Homo sapiens: one gene and its partner. The protein of the gene in region 2 purifies or fractionates together with the protein of the main gene of each other region. This does not show direct contact. Each region holds a gene or a part of one and is shown on either strand. Other genes may lie near its edges. The genes, in order: DHRS4 and HEXA.

Region 1 (8,040 bases), on a different chromosome or scaffold from region 2:
CAGCGTGTGTCGCCCAGTGTCAGTGCCTTTGGGGCGGGGGACAGCGTCCCCACTTTCCTTCTACTGAATCCTCGGGCCCGTGGGCAGAACCCATTGCTTTTGTTTGTGGGCCTGGGTACCTTGCAGGGCCTTTCTCTATTCCCCACCGGCTCAGGACCCATCCAGCTTGTACTTGCTGACTCGGGAGGGAACTCGGGTCGTAGGGCCATGCGGGGAGAGGACCTGGCCTGATCTGGGAGGCAAGGGGCGGGGAGGTGTTAGAGAGTTCATCCTTCCCCACTCTCTCCGGGCTCGCGCTGCCTCGGGGATTCCCGTGGCGTCCTGGGAGTTCCCGTGCCACCTTCCTTCCAGCTGGCAGCTCTGCAGACACCTCCACCCGTGAACATCACGCTCAAGTTCTGGAGACAGGGAGGAGGGCTGGGGGATCCAGAGATCCAGCCTGAATAGACTTCTGCTCTCTGCTCAGCTAAGCACCCAACACTGAGAAATGAACAGGTCAATTGGATTCAAAGCCGCGCAATCATCTGCATTTTATTTGCACCTCATTTGCAAGTTGTTAATTTGCAACTCTGCTCCTTCCACTCCAGGTTCCTTCTCTCCCATCACCCCTCAGATTCCCCAGTGGCCCGGGAAAAAATATCTTGGTCTTTGCCAAGGTAGACTCAGCCTTGTCAGCAGGCCTGTCCTGTGTTCTCAGGGGAGGCCTTTACCCAAGGCCACAACAACAGCAGAAATCCCGAGTAAGACGCCACCTTGACGGCAGGGAAGGCTGGATCTTTTCACAGGGCAGAACTGATTTGATGAGGTGAACAGTAAGGTGAGCAGAGGTGGGAAAGGCCAGTGGGTGAATGCGGGAACAGCACCAGGAGCTAGAGCCCAACTCTGGCCTGTGGGCTGTCTCCCGGTCCTCAGAGGCGGGACGGGGTTCCTCCACCCACCACCACTGTTTCCCCAGTGATGTAGCTGGCATCTTCAGAGCACAGGAAAGACACGATGCCAGCACAATCCTCTGGCTCGCCTAACCTGGGGAATAAGGGAAGCAAGGAAGGAGGTAAAAATCAAACAGTTCTGCCTCCCTCACCTGGGACACAGGGAGTTAAATTTGCTTAATCAAGAATTATCAGATGGCTTTTTCAGGGTCAGTGTACAAGCTTTCTGCCTATCAAATAGGGTTACCACGAGGATATGCTGTTATAATTTAGTATAAGCATACTGTACTCTGCAAAACTATTACCCATAATATTCAAATACTATAGAAACACACCGGTTTTTAGAGAGCTCAGGACACCAAAATCCAAAGTTATATAGATAAAATGGTGAGCAATTATTTCATACTTCAAAAAAATGGTTTCACATGTGCACACACTAAAGTATCAGGGAGTCTGTGTGACAGTAAATGGTGTGTTTAAAATGATTCCATTTGTACAGGTTCAGCTTAGAACTTTTTCAGGAATCTATACTTGTGCCTTAAAGTCAGGTTCATTTAGTGAGAATGTGCTAATTCTTATTTTATCAGTGACTGCATAGTTAGGAGACACTTTAATCTCCCTGCCATAGAATGCTCTAGAGGTGGGCAGAGTGAGTAACTCAAACCTAGAAGGGCTGAATTAATGCTTCTCCATTCTACTTGTATCTTGCAATCATTTGAGAGGCTTAAACCAAAAAAGAAAAGAAAAGAAAAGACAAAGAAAAACAAAAGCCCAGATGGTCAAGTCCTACCTTGGACCAATTAAAAAGAATCTCTGGGAGTGGGTGGGGCCTGAGCACCTGCAGTTTAAAAAGCTCCCCAGGTGATTCTAATGTGAATCCAGTATTGAGCTACATGGGCTAGATCATTCATTGGTGCTCTAGGTTGACAATCCCCTCACTTATTAATGAGTTATGAACCAGGCCTGCAGCTCATGTCTCACATCAGAATGGCTTTGGGAAGATTTGGGATGTCTGGACGAGTACAGAGTTAGGCATTACTGGCATTTGTCCTTGAAGCCAGAAGGTAGAGAGAGGCAGGGAACTTAGAGGAAAGGGAGCCCGACAAAGGTGCTTGAACAGTTCACCCAGCTCACTGGGGAAGAAAGTAACTCCTTAGGCAAGGGGAGTTTGGGGCTTAGTAAAACTCTTCATTCTTTTCATTTGGATTGTAGATCATCAACCTGAGTTTTGTAAACATGTGTCATTATTCAAGGGGACTAACAAAGCATGGTTTTGGTTATGGTCCCTGGTCTCCATGGATGCTCAGAGGTGGAGGCAATCCCCCAGGTGGAGAGAGGACTCAGGGCTTCTCCCAGAGCTCTGCACTGCTGAAACCCCGATGTCTCTGTGTTTACCTTTTGAAAGGGAAGCTGACTTCTTGCTCAGGTCACTGTAGTGATAGTGTTTATGAATTCGTGGTCTGTGAGGCAGAAGAGAGCCTGCCTGTGTTATCTGTGGGACTGAGACAGCGGGCTGTGGGCTGCTAGGGACCAGACCTTCCCATCTTCATGTCTCTTAGTGCCCTTGCCCTCATGACAGTTTACCTTCTTATCCGCAGGGTTTCTTTCATGCTTTCCTCTTTTTCCTTGTCCATCCAGAGCTGCAGGAAGAAGGGAAATCTCTTTATGTTTTTTTTTTCTTTTTCTTTTTCTTTTTAGAGACGGAGTCTTGCTCTTTTGCCCAGGCCGGACTGTAGTGGCGCTATCTTGGCTCACTGCAAACTCCGCCTCCCGGGTTATGCCATTCTCCTGCCTCAGCCTCCCGAGTAGCTGGGATTACAGGCGCTCGCCACTGCGCCCGGCTAATTTTTTGTATTTTTAGTAGAGACGGGGTTTCACCGTGTTAGCCAAGATGGTCTCGACCTCCTGACCTCGTGATCTGCCCGCCTCGGCCTCCCAATGTGCTGGGATTACAGGCATGAGCCACCCCACCCAGAAATCTCTTTATGTTTAAGAAGAGGAAAGTGAAGAACGGAAAGGGAAGAAACTGCCCATCCTCATGGTAACTGAGAGGAGGGATGGGGAGAGAGACTTCCCTCTTTCACTTCCTATTTTTTTCTAGCTCCCAGCTCTCCCCACTGCCCTCATCTGTTTCATTTGTTTCAGGTTCTAGTGATGCATTTTGCTGCGTCTCTCCAATTCTCATCCATGTAAGGAGGGAGGAAACAGTGTGAGTACAGTCTGAATACCTCAGTCTCCAGCCTATACCTCAGAAAAGGTGTGATAAGAGTGTGGCTTGTATAGGGCAGGTGGTACAGAGAGGGAATATGGGAAAGTCCAGGGAAGGAGAATGGAGTGGCTGAGAGCTCAGGACTCAGGTAGTGGGCTTCCCTGTCCAAGAAGATGGATGCCTTTCAAGGGGTCCCAGTCAAATGCAAAGCTCCCCTTCCTCACCATCCTGCTGAAGCTAGTCTTGATAAGTCCAGGTGCTAGGCAGTTCACCCTAATGTTCCTTGGGGCCAGCTCTATGGCCAGGGTCTTGGTCAGGCCCAGCAAGGCTGTTTTACTGACATTGTAAGGACTGAAGCCCTGGAGAAAGAAGAGAATGTGTTAGACTCATAGTTTCCAGGTCATTCTTGGTTCTAATAACTAGACATAGAGGGCAGTGCTCAATAGGGATCTCCTGTAAGGGAGGGGCAGAGTTAGGGAACTGTCTTGTGGCTAAACCTCCCCTAGGTTGTGGTTTGTGGAGGCAAGGCATCTATTTTGTGGGCAGGGACTTGGTGGTGTGATTCTACAAGGGGACACAAACTTCCTTGGGTAATAGGAGGGGTGGAAAGATGTGGAGTGGAGGGTGGGATGGAAGAGGTAGACAAAAGGGTTCTTACAGGAGATGGACTGAAGGCTGCTATGGAAGACACGATCACCACTGAGCCGCCTCTGGAAAAAGAAGAGAGCTGACCATCTTCCCATTGTGGACCAGTGCCCTCAGCCCGTGTGGTGTCCCCTCTCACCCAGGCTCTCTCTCACTCTCTGTACCCTCGTTTCTCCATTTCTGGCACCACTGCCTTTGTCATCAGGGCTGGGGCCTTCACATTAATGTCCAGAGTCTGAAGCCAAGAGAAGAAGGGGAAACAGCATGAGTGAAGAGCACTGGAGGAGGCATGAAAAAATGAGGAGTTAGAGTGGGTTCCTAGGATGTTTGTCAGAGCTGACGAAGATCTTAGGATGATATACCTGCATCTTACACATGAAGGAACTGAGGTTCAGGGAGAAGTAGCTCTCACCAGCTGCTCAGCTAGATATTGATACATTAGGTTCAGGTGAGCAAAAATGGAGCCTGGTTCATCTTGTTTCATAATCAGCCAAGTATGATTTGGGCCAGAAGGGGCCTTTGGATTTGAGCTGTGTTTTCTCTGTTTCTTCCAAGTAGGTAGAGCCTGGAATTGTCAGCCTCCTGGACCTGCCCTAGACTACCTGCCCTAGAGTAGGCCATGCTTCTCAGGGAAAATGTGGCCTGACCTTGGATATGTGGGGTTGTTCTAGCACTTCTCTGGCTTCTGGGCTTAGGGAGTGAGATGTTCTTGGCCCTCTAGGAAGGACTGTCTGGCTAGGCATGGTTAGAAAGTGGGATCATGAGGAGTCACCTTCTGGGGAAGCTGGGGGACAGGCTACAATCAGAATCCCCACATCCATAATCTAAAACAAATGTATGACCCTGTTTACACTGTTCTAGACAACTGCTTATATTAAAATATTTCAATCTTACAGAAAAATTGGAGATAGAAGTACAATGAATGTCTAGATATCCTTCACTTAGATTCACCAATTGTTCACATTTTGTCCTATTTGTCCTCTCTGTAGATCTGTACAGTTTTTTAAATGAACCATTGAAACTCAGTTGCAAGTTTTCTGAAAGATTTTATATAATAAAATCAAAAATTACAAAGAACAAAAATAAAAAAATGTAAATTAAAAAAAAAAAACAAACTCAGGGCTGGGCATGGTGGCTCATGCCTGCAATCCCTGCACTTCGGGAGGCCAAGATGGGTGGATCACTTTTAGGTCAGGAGTTCGAGAACAGCCTGGGCAACATGGCAAACCTCGTCTGTACTAAAAATACAAAAATTAGCCAGACGTGGTGGCATGTGTTTGTAATCCAAGCTACTCAGGAGGATGAGACAGCAGAATAGCTTGAACCCGGGAGGTGGAGGTTGCAGTGAGCTGAGATAGCACCACTGCACTCCAGCCTGGGTAACAGAGTGAGGCTCCATCACAAAAATAAATAAATAACCTAAAATAAAATAAGTAAACTCAGTTGCAGATAGTACAATGTTCTATCCCCAAATACTTAGCATACATTTCCAAAGAGTAAGGATTTTCTTTTACACAACCATAATCTGTTATCACAACCAAGAGTTTGACAATGATGATAATTTTATCTAACATATTGGCCTCAATTATCCCCCAAATGTGTGTGTGTGTTTTTTAAAGTCCAGAGTTCAATCAAGGATCAGCCATTATGTTTGGATTTGTCATACTGTGATAGTTTAAAAAATATACAAATTAAAAGAAAAGTTATAGACACATATTTTCTTATGCTTTGCAGATATTGTGTTTTTTTTTTTTTTTTTTTTTTTTTTTTTTTTTTACAAATTGCAGTTTCGTGGCAACCCTGCATTAATTCGAGCCATTTTTCCAATTGCATGTGCTCACTTTGTCTCTGGGTCACATTTTGGTAATTCTTGGAATATTTCAGACCTTTCCATTATTATTGTATCTGTTACGGTGATCTGTGATGAGTGATCTTTCATGGTTTTATTATAATTGTTTTGGGGTACCACAAACCACACCCAGAAAAGAAGGTCAACTTAATCGAAAAATGTTGTGTGTTCTGACTGCTCTGCCCTTCTCTCATCTCTCTCCCTCTCTGTGGGCCTCCATATTCCCTGAGACACATTTACATTGAAATTAGGCCAACTATTAACCCTACAATGGCTTGTAAGTGTTTAAGCAAAAGGAAGAGTCACACATCTTTCACTTTAAATCAAAAGCTAGAAACAATTAAGCTTAGTGAGGAAGGCATGTTGAAAGCTGAGGCAGGCTGAAAGTTAGACCATGTGCACCAGTTAGCCAAATTGTGAATGCAAAGGAAAAATTCTTGAAGGAAATTAAAAGTGCTACTTCTCTGAACATATAAATGATAAGAAAGCAAAAGAGGTTTATTGTTAATATGGAGAGAAAGTTCTTATGTTCTGGACAGAAGATCAAACTAGCCACAACATTCCCTTAAGCCAAAGCCTAATCAGTAAAAGGCCCTAATTTTTAATTCTTTGAAGGCTGAGAGAGGTGAAGAAGCTCCGGAAAAGTTGGAAGCTAGCAGTGGTTGGTTCATGAGGTTTAAGAAGCCACCTCTGTAACATAAAAGTGCAAGATGAAGCAGCGAGTGCTGATGTAGAAGCTGCAGCCAGTTATCCAGAAGATCTAGCTAAGATCATTGATGAAGGTGGCTACAGCAAACAACAGATTTTCAATGTAGATGAAACAACCTTCTAGTGGAAGAAGATGCCATGTAGGGCTTTAATAGCTAGAGAGGAGAAGTCAATGCCTGGCTTCAAAACTTCAAAGGACAGGCTTATTCTCTTGTTAGGGGCTAATGCAGCCAGTGACTTTAAGTTGAAGCCAATGCTCATTTACCATTCTGAAAATTCTAGGGCCCTCAGATTTACGCTAAATCTACTCTGCCTGTGCTCTGCAAATGGAACAACAAAGCCTGAATAACAGCACATCTGTTTATAGCATGGTTTACTGAATATTTTAAGCTCACCGTTGATAGCTACTGCTCAGAAAAAGATTCCTTTCAAACTGTTACTGCTCATTGACAATGCACCTGGTCACTCAAAAGCTCTGATGGAGATGTACAAGGAGATTAATGTTGTTTTCATGCCTGCTAACACAACATCCATTCTGCAGCCCATGGATCGGGGGTAATTCTGACTTCCAAGACTTATTATTTAAGAAATACATTTTGTAAGGCTATAGCTGCCATGGATAGTGATTCCTCTGATGGATCTCGGCAAAGTTAACTGAAAACCTTCTGTAAAGGATGCACCATTTTAGATGCCATTAAGAATATTTGTGATTCATGGGAGGAGGTCAAAATATCTACATTAACAGGAGTCTGGAAGAAGTTGATTCCAACCCTCATGGATGACGTGGAAGGGTTCAAGACTGCATCAGAGGAAGGAACTGCAGATGTGGTGGAAATAGCAAGAGAACTAGAAGCGGAGCTGGAAGATGGGACTGAATTGCTACAATCTCACGATAAAATGTAGATGGCTGAGGAGCTGGTTCTTACGGATAAGCAAAGAAAGTGGTTTCTTGGGATGGAATCTATTTCTGGTGAAGATGCCATGAATATTGTTGAAATCACAACACGGGATTCAGAATATTATAGGTACTTAGTAGAGTAAGCAGTGGTAGAGTTTGATAGGATTGACTCCAATTTTGAAAGAAGTTCTACTGTGGGTAAATGCTATCAAACAGGATTGCATGCTACAGAGAAATCTCTTGTGAAAGGAAGAGTCAACTGATGTGGCAAACTTCACTGCTGTCTTATTTGAAAAAACTGCCACAGCCACCCCAGCCTTCAGCAACACCACCCTAAGTCAGCCACCATCAATGTTGAGGCAAGATCCTCCACCAGCAAAAAGATTACAAGTTGTAAAGGCTCAGATGATTGTCAGCATTTTTTTAGCAATAAAGTATTTTAAAATTAAGATACGTATATATATTTTAAAACATAATGCTATTGCTCAGTTAATAGACTTCCATTAGATGATCATTATAATGTAAACCTAACTTTTATATGCACTGGGAAACCAAAAAATTCATGTGACTCACTTTATTATAATATTCACTTTATTGTGTGGTGGCCTGGAACCAGACCCACAATATCTCTGAGGCGTGCCTGTACTTAGTTTAAAACTGACTTTCATATGGTCTCTATTCAGACTGTTCATGAATGATGCTCCTCTATTTTAAAGACTATCAGAATCTGGCTGTGTGTGGTGGCTCATGCCTGCAATCCCAATATTTTGGGGGGCTGAGGTGTGGGGATCAGTTGAGGCCA
Region 2 (9,030 bases):
TCCAAGCCCCTACATCTTTTTCCATATACCAACGCCTTGGAGATATAATGCAGAAGTGAAGTGAGCAGGCTGAGGATTAGGGCAGGTGTCTGGAATATGGTCAGGAGTGGGAGGGGAGTGACATAGCTCACAGGCAAGGCAGAACAGCACAAAGGCTATAGGTTTCATTCCCAGCCCTCAACTTAAAAGACCTCAGGGGCAGACACTGACTCCAGCCTGGCTGTGCCCTTACCCTAACGCCATTCACACTTTTTTTTTTAAACACAGGTAATCCATGTTTATTATAGAAAAATGCCACATTACTCTTTATTGAATGCGAGCGCCAGCACCGGCCCCTTTCTCTCCAAGCACAGGGGCACGCAGGCAAGGGGCACGAAGGCAAGGGGCTCCGTCCCCTGGCCAGGATGCAGTGGAAGCCTGGCTCCACTACCATTCACCTACAGCCAGCACCCTCCTCGGTGCCTGGGGCTCAGGTCTGTTCAAACTCCTGCTCACAGAAGCCTACATTGAGGGGTTGGGCCTGGACACCTCGCCTGCAAGAGGACATGAAGAAATGGCAAGATAAGCCCCTCAGAAGGGGCCCCAGCAACACTTTTCACACCAGTCAACAGTCTCTCCTTCCCCATTTCGGTGACTCTCAAACTGTCACTGTACACCAAATGCACCTGGGAATCTCAATTCCAGAGATTCTCACCTGGGGTGGGGCAAAGTATTGGCAAGAATCTGCAAGCTGAACAGGTGCCTCAGGTGATTCTGATACAGGTCTTGGAGATCCAGAAACGTTGGCGACATCTATTTATATCCTGCCCATCTCTGTACCCTAACCCCAAATAACTCAATCCCTTTAGAATATAGATGGATGTCTGAAAGGCAGCCAATGCTCTTGGTCTACTTAGCCCTCTGTTCCTGACTCTAAAATGCTGTAAATATGGTGGCACTGGGGGACTTAGGTGCTGTCCTGTCCATGAACATGGATGCGAAATCCTGTCCTTGGGTCTCAGTCTATAACCTGACCAATCTCCTTAGGGGACCTCTAGGCATGCTTCCCTTATCATCCAAGTAAGCAACATGCTTAGAGAACCAGCTGGAAGTTACCCAGTGAATGACATAATTGAGGCTTAGACACCATCATGCTTGACTCTCAGCCCAGGACTCTGCTCTGCACTAGGCTATGTCCCCCAAGTACTCAAGACCTAGCCAACGAAGGAATCAGGGAAATGACTATCTTACACAGGCACATCCCTGACAGAGGCAAAGGTGTCATGACATCCTGTAAGTCAGCCTGGTTCAAATCCTGCTTCTTAGTGACTTTGGGCAAGGTCCTGAACTCTGTGCTTCAGTGTCTATCTCTAAAATGCACCTGTCTCATGGGGCTGTGGTGAAGACTAAATGAGACAATATTTGTAACAAACTTAGCACAGTGTTTGCCACAAAATACAGTTGTCCCTCAGTATCCACAGGGGATTTGTTTCAGGACCCCCGTGGATACCAAAATCCAAGGATGCTCAAGTCCCTTATATAAAAATGACATAGTATTTGCATATAACCAATGTACAACTTCCCATATACTTGAAATGATCTTAGATTACTTATACCTAATACAATATAAATGCTATGTAAATAGTTGTTATACAGTATTTTTTATTTGTACCATTTTTTGTTGTATTTTTTTTTTCCTGAATACTTTTTATCGCAGTTGGTTGAATCCGTGGATGAGGGCTGACTATAAGCCTCTGTAAGTGTTAGCTATTGTTAATTATTGTCTTCCTCTCTCTAAGGGGTTCCCCAGCCCTGGATCTGGCCTGCTCCGCCTTGCGAAGGCCCCACAGCTTGCTTACCTCAGCAATTCACAGCGGAAGTGTGACAAACGTTCATAGGCAAATGTCAGGTCAGATGTCAACTTGTTGCTCCACAGCCTTTCGGCAACAGCCCCTGCTCTGGGCCTGGAGGAAAAGGGGCATGTGCCAGATTGGGCCCTGTATTCCCTGCAAAGGTGCTGGACATCCACAGGCTGCTACCTCTTGTCTAGGCACCCTGGACTCACTCAGGCCAAAGGAAGTGATCAATACCTTGTTATGAGCCACAGCCAGGTTGGATGGCTCCCAGAGAGTTCTACGGCTCAGCTCCACCTTCATTAAAATGTGGGTAGCAATCCCACTCTCTTCCTCTCTCAAAGATATGGGAATAAGAATAAACCTTAAAGCCATCATTAACCACAATGACAGTGGCAGCAGCAGAGGTCCTTAAAATGTAAACTTTGCACACCCAACCATACTTGGTAAGGCTGCAGTGAAAACAGCAGAGGGAAGCCTTATTACAGGAATCATGGATGCTTGTGCTGGGTCTTGAGCAACTCACCTATGTTCTCCAGGCCTCATTATCTCTCTGGGAAGTAAGGTTAACAATCCCTATCCCACATACCAAAGGGCAGCTGGAGGGATATAGACGGAAGTCATGTGGAGAGTGAATATTGCACACAAATCTTCAGAAGGCTCGTTGCACGGCCTGCTCTCTCTCAGGCCTGAAAGAAGGGTACTAGTCCAGAGGTGGCTAGATGGGATTGGGTCTCTAAGGGAGAACTCCTGCTCTCAGGCCCAACCCTCCACCTCCCCCCCGAAAACCCTTACCAGAGCCTGGGGACCAGGTTTGTGTTGTCCACATATTCTCCCCACATACAAGCCTCTCCACCAATCACCAGAGCCTTCTGCTCAGGGGTACCTGAGGGAAAACAAGCAACAACAGTCTGGTGATGGTGGGGTAACTCCAGGGTCCCTCTCAACCACCTTCCCAATGTGGCCCTCACCCCAGCTAAGTTGTTTCATTTACTAACTGGAAATGTCTGGCCCAGACCTTCCTGCCTCCCATCCTGTGCCCCAACCCAGCCTCCTTTGGTTAGCAAGGAGAGCTCTCTGCTTTCACCTTCAAATGCCAGGGGTTCCACTATGTAGAAATCCTTCCAGTCAGGGCCATAGGATATACGGTTCAGGTACCAGGGGGCAGAGAGAAGGGCCCGGAAGCCGGCCTTGGTGACCAGTTCCAGCTCCTTCATATAGTTCACTGGAATATCCTCTCGCCACACCTGTATGATTGTGTCTGGCTGAATCTGTTATAAAAGGTCAAATGGCAGTAAGGACACAAAGCTGAGGAGATTCCTGGGCCTTATTCATACACAGGCAACATGGGACAACAGGTATGTGCTCCCTCTGTTCCCCAGCAGCAAAGTATGTCTCTGTGACTCCTGACCATTGAGCTCACACCTCAGGACAGAGGCCAAGGAATCCAGGGCCCTAAGAGGCCTCCCTGCAGCTCTCCTCCCCGTCCCTCTGCAGCCTCCCTGTCCACACAGAGCTAGTAATACCAGCTGTGAGCTGAGGGAGGCAAGCAGTGGGACCCAGGAGCTGCCATGTCCAAAAGTCTCCAGATGTTTCTGGGGACGGGACAAGGTTCCTGAAGAGTCCTTGCATGTGACAGGAGACTGGGATCTTACTGATCAACAATAAAGGAGAAGGTAACCTTGGTCCCACAGACCCAGAAGACCCTCATCTATGATTTAGGAAGAAAAATCCAGCCTATCCAAGTAACCTAACAGCAGAAATAGTTCTTAATTAAGTTTGTAGTGAGGGAAGATAGAAACTCTGACACATAAACCCAGGGCTCATACCACAGCGGCCTTTGGTTTTTTTGAGGCAGGGTCTCACTCTGTTGCCCAGGGTTGAGTGCAGAGGCACATCTTGGCTCACAGCAACCTCTGCCTCCTGGGCTCAAGCAGTACCCCAACCTCAGCCTCCTGATTTTTGTATTTTTTGTAGAGATGAGGGTTTTGCTATGTTGGCCAGGCTGGTCTTGAACTCCTAGGCTCAAGCAATCCCCCTGCCTTGGCCTACCAAAGTGCTTGGATTACAGGCGTGAGCCACTGCACCCAGCACTCTGTGGCCTTTCTAGAGAGAAAAGGAGAGTGCTCCGACCATTAAAGCCCAATCCAAACCAGGAGGATCAGTCTCTGTAGAGGCAGGGAGGAGCTGGGGAGACCAGAGGGAGGCACTGCTGGTGGCTTCTTCTCTTCTCTGCCCCGGCTCACCTTTACTTTATTATCAAACACCTCCTGCCACACCACATAGCCCTTGCCATAAGAAGAGACGATGTCCAGCAGCCTGGAGAGGAGAGGAGTGTCTAGTAAGTGTCTGCTTAGCTCAGATGGGTTCTAGACTGTTTGTGCCAGTGCTCTAGGGGTTGAGCCTGGCCAGGGGCCTATTCCTCATTAAGCAGTGTCTTTCCCCTGGGCTGAAAACCAACCACTCCAAATCTGAAAGGATGGGACAAAGGACAAGGGAACCCTGCAGGGACCAGACAGTGGCCAAGCAGGGCCTGACTCGGTATGGAAAGGGAGGACCCCACAGGAGGACCCCCAAGGGACCCCACCCACCCTCCTTCCTTCCTCACGTCTGGATGTAGAAGGACTCCAGCTGCTTGAAGTCCTCACCGAAGCCTTTCTTCCTCATAAAGTCCTGGATCTCTGGGTTGGACTTCCTGAATCCCAAGAGAAAATGAAGATTAATCTTTCAACATCCTGAAAGCCTAATGCCTGGGGATTAGTCACCTGGCCCCCTATAACTTCCTCTTTTCACCTGAAAAATCAAATAAGCAAGGATCTCAGAAGCCCTACATGTGGAAAGTGTGGCCAAGCAAAGTTATGTGAAGCAGGTGGGCTGTTGACACAGGCTGAGAAAGGCTGAGTCTGGACCTGAAGAGTTTTAAGTTCAAACTCCCAAAGAGAAAACATATTAATCCTCTCTGGACTGCAACATGAGAATCCAAGGTCTTAACTTGAAGCTCCAGCACACTGGATTTCGGCTTTCCTATCTGCTCTTCCAGTTGGATGACAAGCCTTGCTGTCTAACACCTGCTGCAGATCCCTTGCGTTATGACGTCCACATTTTGCTCACATTGTTCTCCTTCTGGAATATTTTCCCCTGCTCACATCTCCAAAAAGCCAAATTGATTTCCCCAGATTCAGCTCTAGCGCCCTCTTCTCAAAGAAGCCCCTCAGCCTCTTTTGAGCTTACTAGAACCAAGGGTTTGGACTTTACAACTGAATACTAATTAGACATTGTCACCTATTAGTCTTGAATTCTGTGTCTTGACTCTTCAACTAGACAATTTTAAGCCTTCATAAACAGGGATTATTTTTCTCTATCCCGAACTTTTCCAAGACAATTCTGTGCCCAGGGCTGTTTTTTCTATCAATACCTCAAGGATATGAGAGTAGGAAGGAAGAGGTTCACAGTGAAAGCCTTGCCAAAATCAGGTAGGATCTCTACGTAGATGGGCAGAGGAAGGCCTAAGACCTGAGCAATGTGAGCCCATACAGACCCCTGAGAGCAGCAGCTGAGCTAAGCAGCCCCTCGGGTGCTAACTTCTATTCTGAGTAAGCAACTGATCAGGCCACAGTGGGAAGATCAAAGGGCTCATACCAGCAGGTGAAATCAACCTCATCTCCTCCAAGATGAAGATAAAAATCTGGGAAGACAGAGCTGACTTCTAAGAAGAATGTGCTCATGAACTCATAGGTATTATTGAGACTGGGATTCACTGGTCCAAAGGTGCCAGAGGGCTCAGACCCAGAGTAGCAAGGAGTCAGTAATCCAGGGATACCTAAGCCAAGAGAAAACCCCATATGAGTGTCACAAATACATAAACCCCCACGCACAGTCCTACACGTAAGGACACGAGTCACACAAAGCAAGACAAGTGTATTCATAAACATCACACACATTTAGGTAGGCACACTTAGGCACTCACAGACACTGGTAGTCACCACCATTTAGTCACAGTAAAAAGATACAAATATATCCACAATCATAGGCAGAGGCTAAGTTCCAGCCAGACAACTGTCAGTGCGCACACTCTTGCCTGGACACACTGCTTCTAGCAGGTGCTACCCTTGCTCCCAAGGCTGCTCTCCTCACAGGCCTTGAGGCAGAGAGAGAGCCTAATCCAGCCAAACTGGCAAAATCTTTCTTCTCTATCTCCTCCTGTAGGTGGGGTCAACCATCACCCAGAATCTTTTTACATTTGCTAAGGGATATCTCCCTTGGCCCAGAGACTACTTCCTGACGCTGAGGTCACAAGATATCTTCAGGGTTTTTTTTTGGTTGTTGTTGTTTGTTTGTTTTTGAGACAGAGTCTTGCTCTGTCGCCCAGGCTGGAGTACAGTGGCATGATCTTGGCTCACTGCAACCTCTGCCTCCTGGGTTCAAGCGATTCTCCTGCCTCAGCCTCCCGAGTAGCTGGGATTACAGGCGCCTGCCACCACGCCTGGCTAATTTTTGTATTTTTAGTAGAGATGGAGTTTCACCATGTTGGCCAGGCTGGTCTTGAACTCCTGACCTCAGGTGATCCACCCGCCTTGGCCTCCAAAAGTGGTGGGATTACAGACATGAGCCACCACGCCCGGCCAATATCTTCAGTTTTCTATCAGGCCAGTAGCCCTTTTCAACTGTCATTTAACCTGTGTTGGGGGCTCACACTGGAGGGCTGAGGGTATACAGAAGAAAGGGAGCAGGGGTACTGACTGACTCTGACCTCTGCAGGCTGCCCTTGGGCTTCTTTCTTTCAGATTCTACCCTGGTGGTCAGATTCCTCAGCATCCACTCTAGGCACAACTACCTGCAACGGCATCTGAGAAAAATGTGCCCTTACATAGTCTAACAGTACATATTTTAATAGTAAGAAGCAGCCTCCATTGTCCAAAGTGAGTTCTTCCTATCTAAATTCCCAGGTGGAAGAAGTCGATGGAAAACATTCTTCTAAGGACCAAGGCTGGGATATGCCACTTCCATGAGCCAGTGCCCTGAAGCTTCACTCTGAGCATAACAAGCAGAGTCCCTCTGGTCCCAGACATCATTCTTACCTGGTCCCCAGGACAAAGTGTGGCCAGGAGTGTCAAACTCTGCAAGCACACGGATACCCCGGAGCCGTGCGTATTCAATGACCTCCTTCACATCCTGTGCTGTGTAGATGTGGGTGACAGGGTTGTAGGACCCCTGAAAGGCACAAGACACCCTTCAGGTTCACACTTCCTGAAAGCTAGCAGAGTAGAAGATACTCAAAATGCCCACAAGACTCCCCAGATATCAGAAAACCTGCCCATAGCCCTTTGGTGTCAGGGACTATCTTCAAAAAACTTGATCATAATTTCCCAGAAGTTATCACATCTGTTTTATCTGAGTATCATAATGCCAGTGAGATAATCATGGTAGGTATTAATACTATGTCCATTTAACAGAATATAAATACATAAAAAGGGAATAAGGCCAGAAGAGATTCTCTCCTGAAGGTCACAAGGCAAATTATCGGCAAAGTTTTGGACTTGAACTCAAGTCTCCTGACTCCAAATCCAGTGTCCTTCCCCTATATTGGTCTAAAACTGGCTGGTTAGGATGAGAGACCCTGTTCTTGCCAGCAGGGCCACAGCCAGATTCAGACATTGACCCATAAACTTGGTCTGAGTGAAACGGGAACATACCTTTCTCATGAGCTCTGGAAAAGTGAAGCTCTCATATGGGAAGGAAGGATCATCTACCAGATGCCAGTGGAACACGTTCAATTTATTGTACGCCATGACATCCTGTAGGTTAAAGTGCACACTGTGAACCCATCACAGTCTCTCCGGTTTCAGCCTCAAACTTGCGATGTTGGGCGAGCTCTCAGGCCGCTCCACACACCCCTACAGGCTTGACCTGCCTCAGCTCTCAATTAAGTATTTATGGGGTCTATCAAACCTTCCCATCAGGGAGGGATGGCATGGAGGGAAGGCCCAGCACACTTCTACTTTTCCCAGAACACATCCAAAGATGGATGATAGAAGTGGTCTTTCCTCTTCTTGAAATAAATTCTGGCCACATTAAGAGGAGGGCTGCAGCTACTGTGGTAGCCTGGAATCTTCCAAAAGCCTGAAGATCAATACTTCCTCTTGCCATTTGTGTTCGGTTGTCTGACTGATGTTAAGCCCAACTGTGAGACCTCCTGGGAACTTAGTAGCCTCTTAACTCATAATCTCAGAAGCAAAGGCTGGCAGATGTGTGGCCTCCTTTGGTTCCGTCACAGGAGCAAAGGAAAAGGCAGACACAGGAACTGGATTGGGAACTGTCAGATAAGACTGCACATTAAACTCAAGAGAGTTAGGAACTTCCCCAGGAAAGGCTTTTTTTTTTTTTTTTTTTTTTTTTGAGACAGAGTCTTGCTGTGTCACCCAGGCTGGAGTGCAGTGGCACAATCTCAGCTCACTGCAACCTCCACCTCCCAGGTTCAAGTGCTTCTCATGCCTCAGCCTCCTTCCTTCCTTCACTTATTTATTTATTTATTTATTTTTGAGACAGGGTCTCTGTTGTCCAGGCTGGAGTGCAGTGGTGCAATCACAGTTCATGCATCCTTGATCTCCCCAGGCTCAGGTGATTCTCCCATCACAGACTCCTGAGTAGCTGGGACTACAGGTTTGCGCCATCGCGCCTGGCTAATTTTTTGTATTTTCAGTAGAGATGGGGTTTCACCGTCTTGGCCAGGTTAGTCTCAAACTCCTGAGCTCGGGCAATCCACCCGCCTTGGCCTCCCAGAGTGCTAGGATTACAGGTGTGAGCCACTGCACCTGGCCCCAAGTTAAGGCTTTGAACGTCTCTCTCCTATGACCTTGTTCTAACTAAAGTTAGCTCTGCCGGCCAGGTGTAGTGACTCATGCCTGTAATTCTACCACTCTGGCAGGCCAAGGTGGGCAGATTGCTTGAGCCCAGGAGTTCAAGACCAGCCTGGGTAACATGACGAAACCCCAGCTCTACAAAAAATACAAAAAAAAAAAAAAAAAATTGAGACGCTGTCTCAAAAACAAATATAGTTAGCTCTGCCAATGAAGCCAATTCCCCTAAACATTTGTATCCCTGGAAACAGCCTGAACATTGATCTACAGTAGCCTGTAAGGTAGATTTAAGTCACTCTGTTATTTTTTGAGTCTTGGAGCAGCTCATCTTCTACATTTTT

The links.
Region 1: the proteins of HEXA (region 2) and DHRS4 purify together in Homo sapiens (affinity purification with mass spectrometry; 2 studies listed by BioGRID and IntAct, with this or other methods). This does not show direct contact.

What each region holds. Positions count from the first base shown.
Region 1 is NC_000014.9:23,961,740-23,969,779, reverse strand, and holds the end of DHRS4 (dehydrogenase/reductase SDR family member 4), read right to left. Parts: intron 5,203-8,040; coding exon of another isoform or gene 5,182-5,202; exon of another isoform or gene 4,019-5,181; coding exon 3,948-4,018; exon of another isoform or gene 3,849-3,947; coding exon 3,797-3,848; exon of another isoform or gene 3,498-3,796; coding exon 3,363-3,497; exon of another isoform or gene 3,075-3,362; intron 2,971-3,074; exon of another isoform or gene 2,709-2,970; intron 2,570-2,708; coding exon 2,514-2,569; coding exon of another isoform or gene 2,510-2,513; exon of another isoform or gene 2,097-2,509; intron 1,024-2,096; coding exon 909-1,023; 3' UTR 501-908; downstream 1-500. UniProt on the Homo sapiens protein: NADPH-dependent oxidoreductase which catalyzes the reduction of a variety of compounds bearing carbonyl groups including ketosteroids, alpha-dicarbonyl compounds, aldehydes, aromatic ketones and quinones.
Region 2 is NC_000015.10:72,343,608-72,352,637, forward strand, and holds part of HEXA (beta-hexosaminidase subunit alpha isoform 2 preproprotein), read right to left. Parts: intron 7,628-9,030; coding exon 7,526-7,627; intron 7,044-7,525; coding exon 6,911-7,043; intron 5,653-6,910; coding exon 5,472-5,652; intron 4,528-5,471; coding exon 4,441-4,527; intron 4,152-4,440; coding exon 4,079-4,151; intron 3,104-4,078; coding exon 2,920-3,103; intron 2,719-2,919; coding exon 2,628-2,718; intron 1,944-2,627; coding exon 1,839-1,943; exon of another isoform or gene 1,622-1,838; intron 534-1,621; coding exon 470-533; 3' UTR 1-469. UniProt on the Homo sapiens protein: Hydrolyzes the non-reducing end N-acetyl-D-hexosamine and/or sulfated N-acetyl-D-hexosamine of glycoconjugates, such as the oligosaccharide moieties from proteins and neutral glycolipids, or from certain mucopolysaccharides.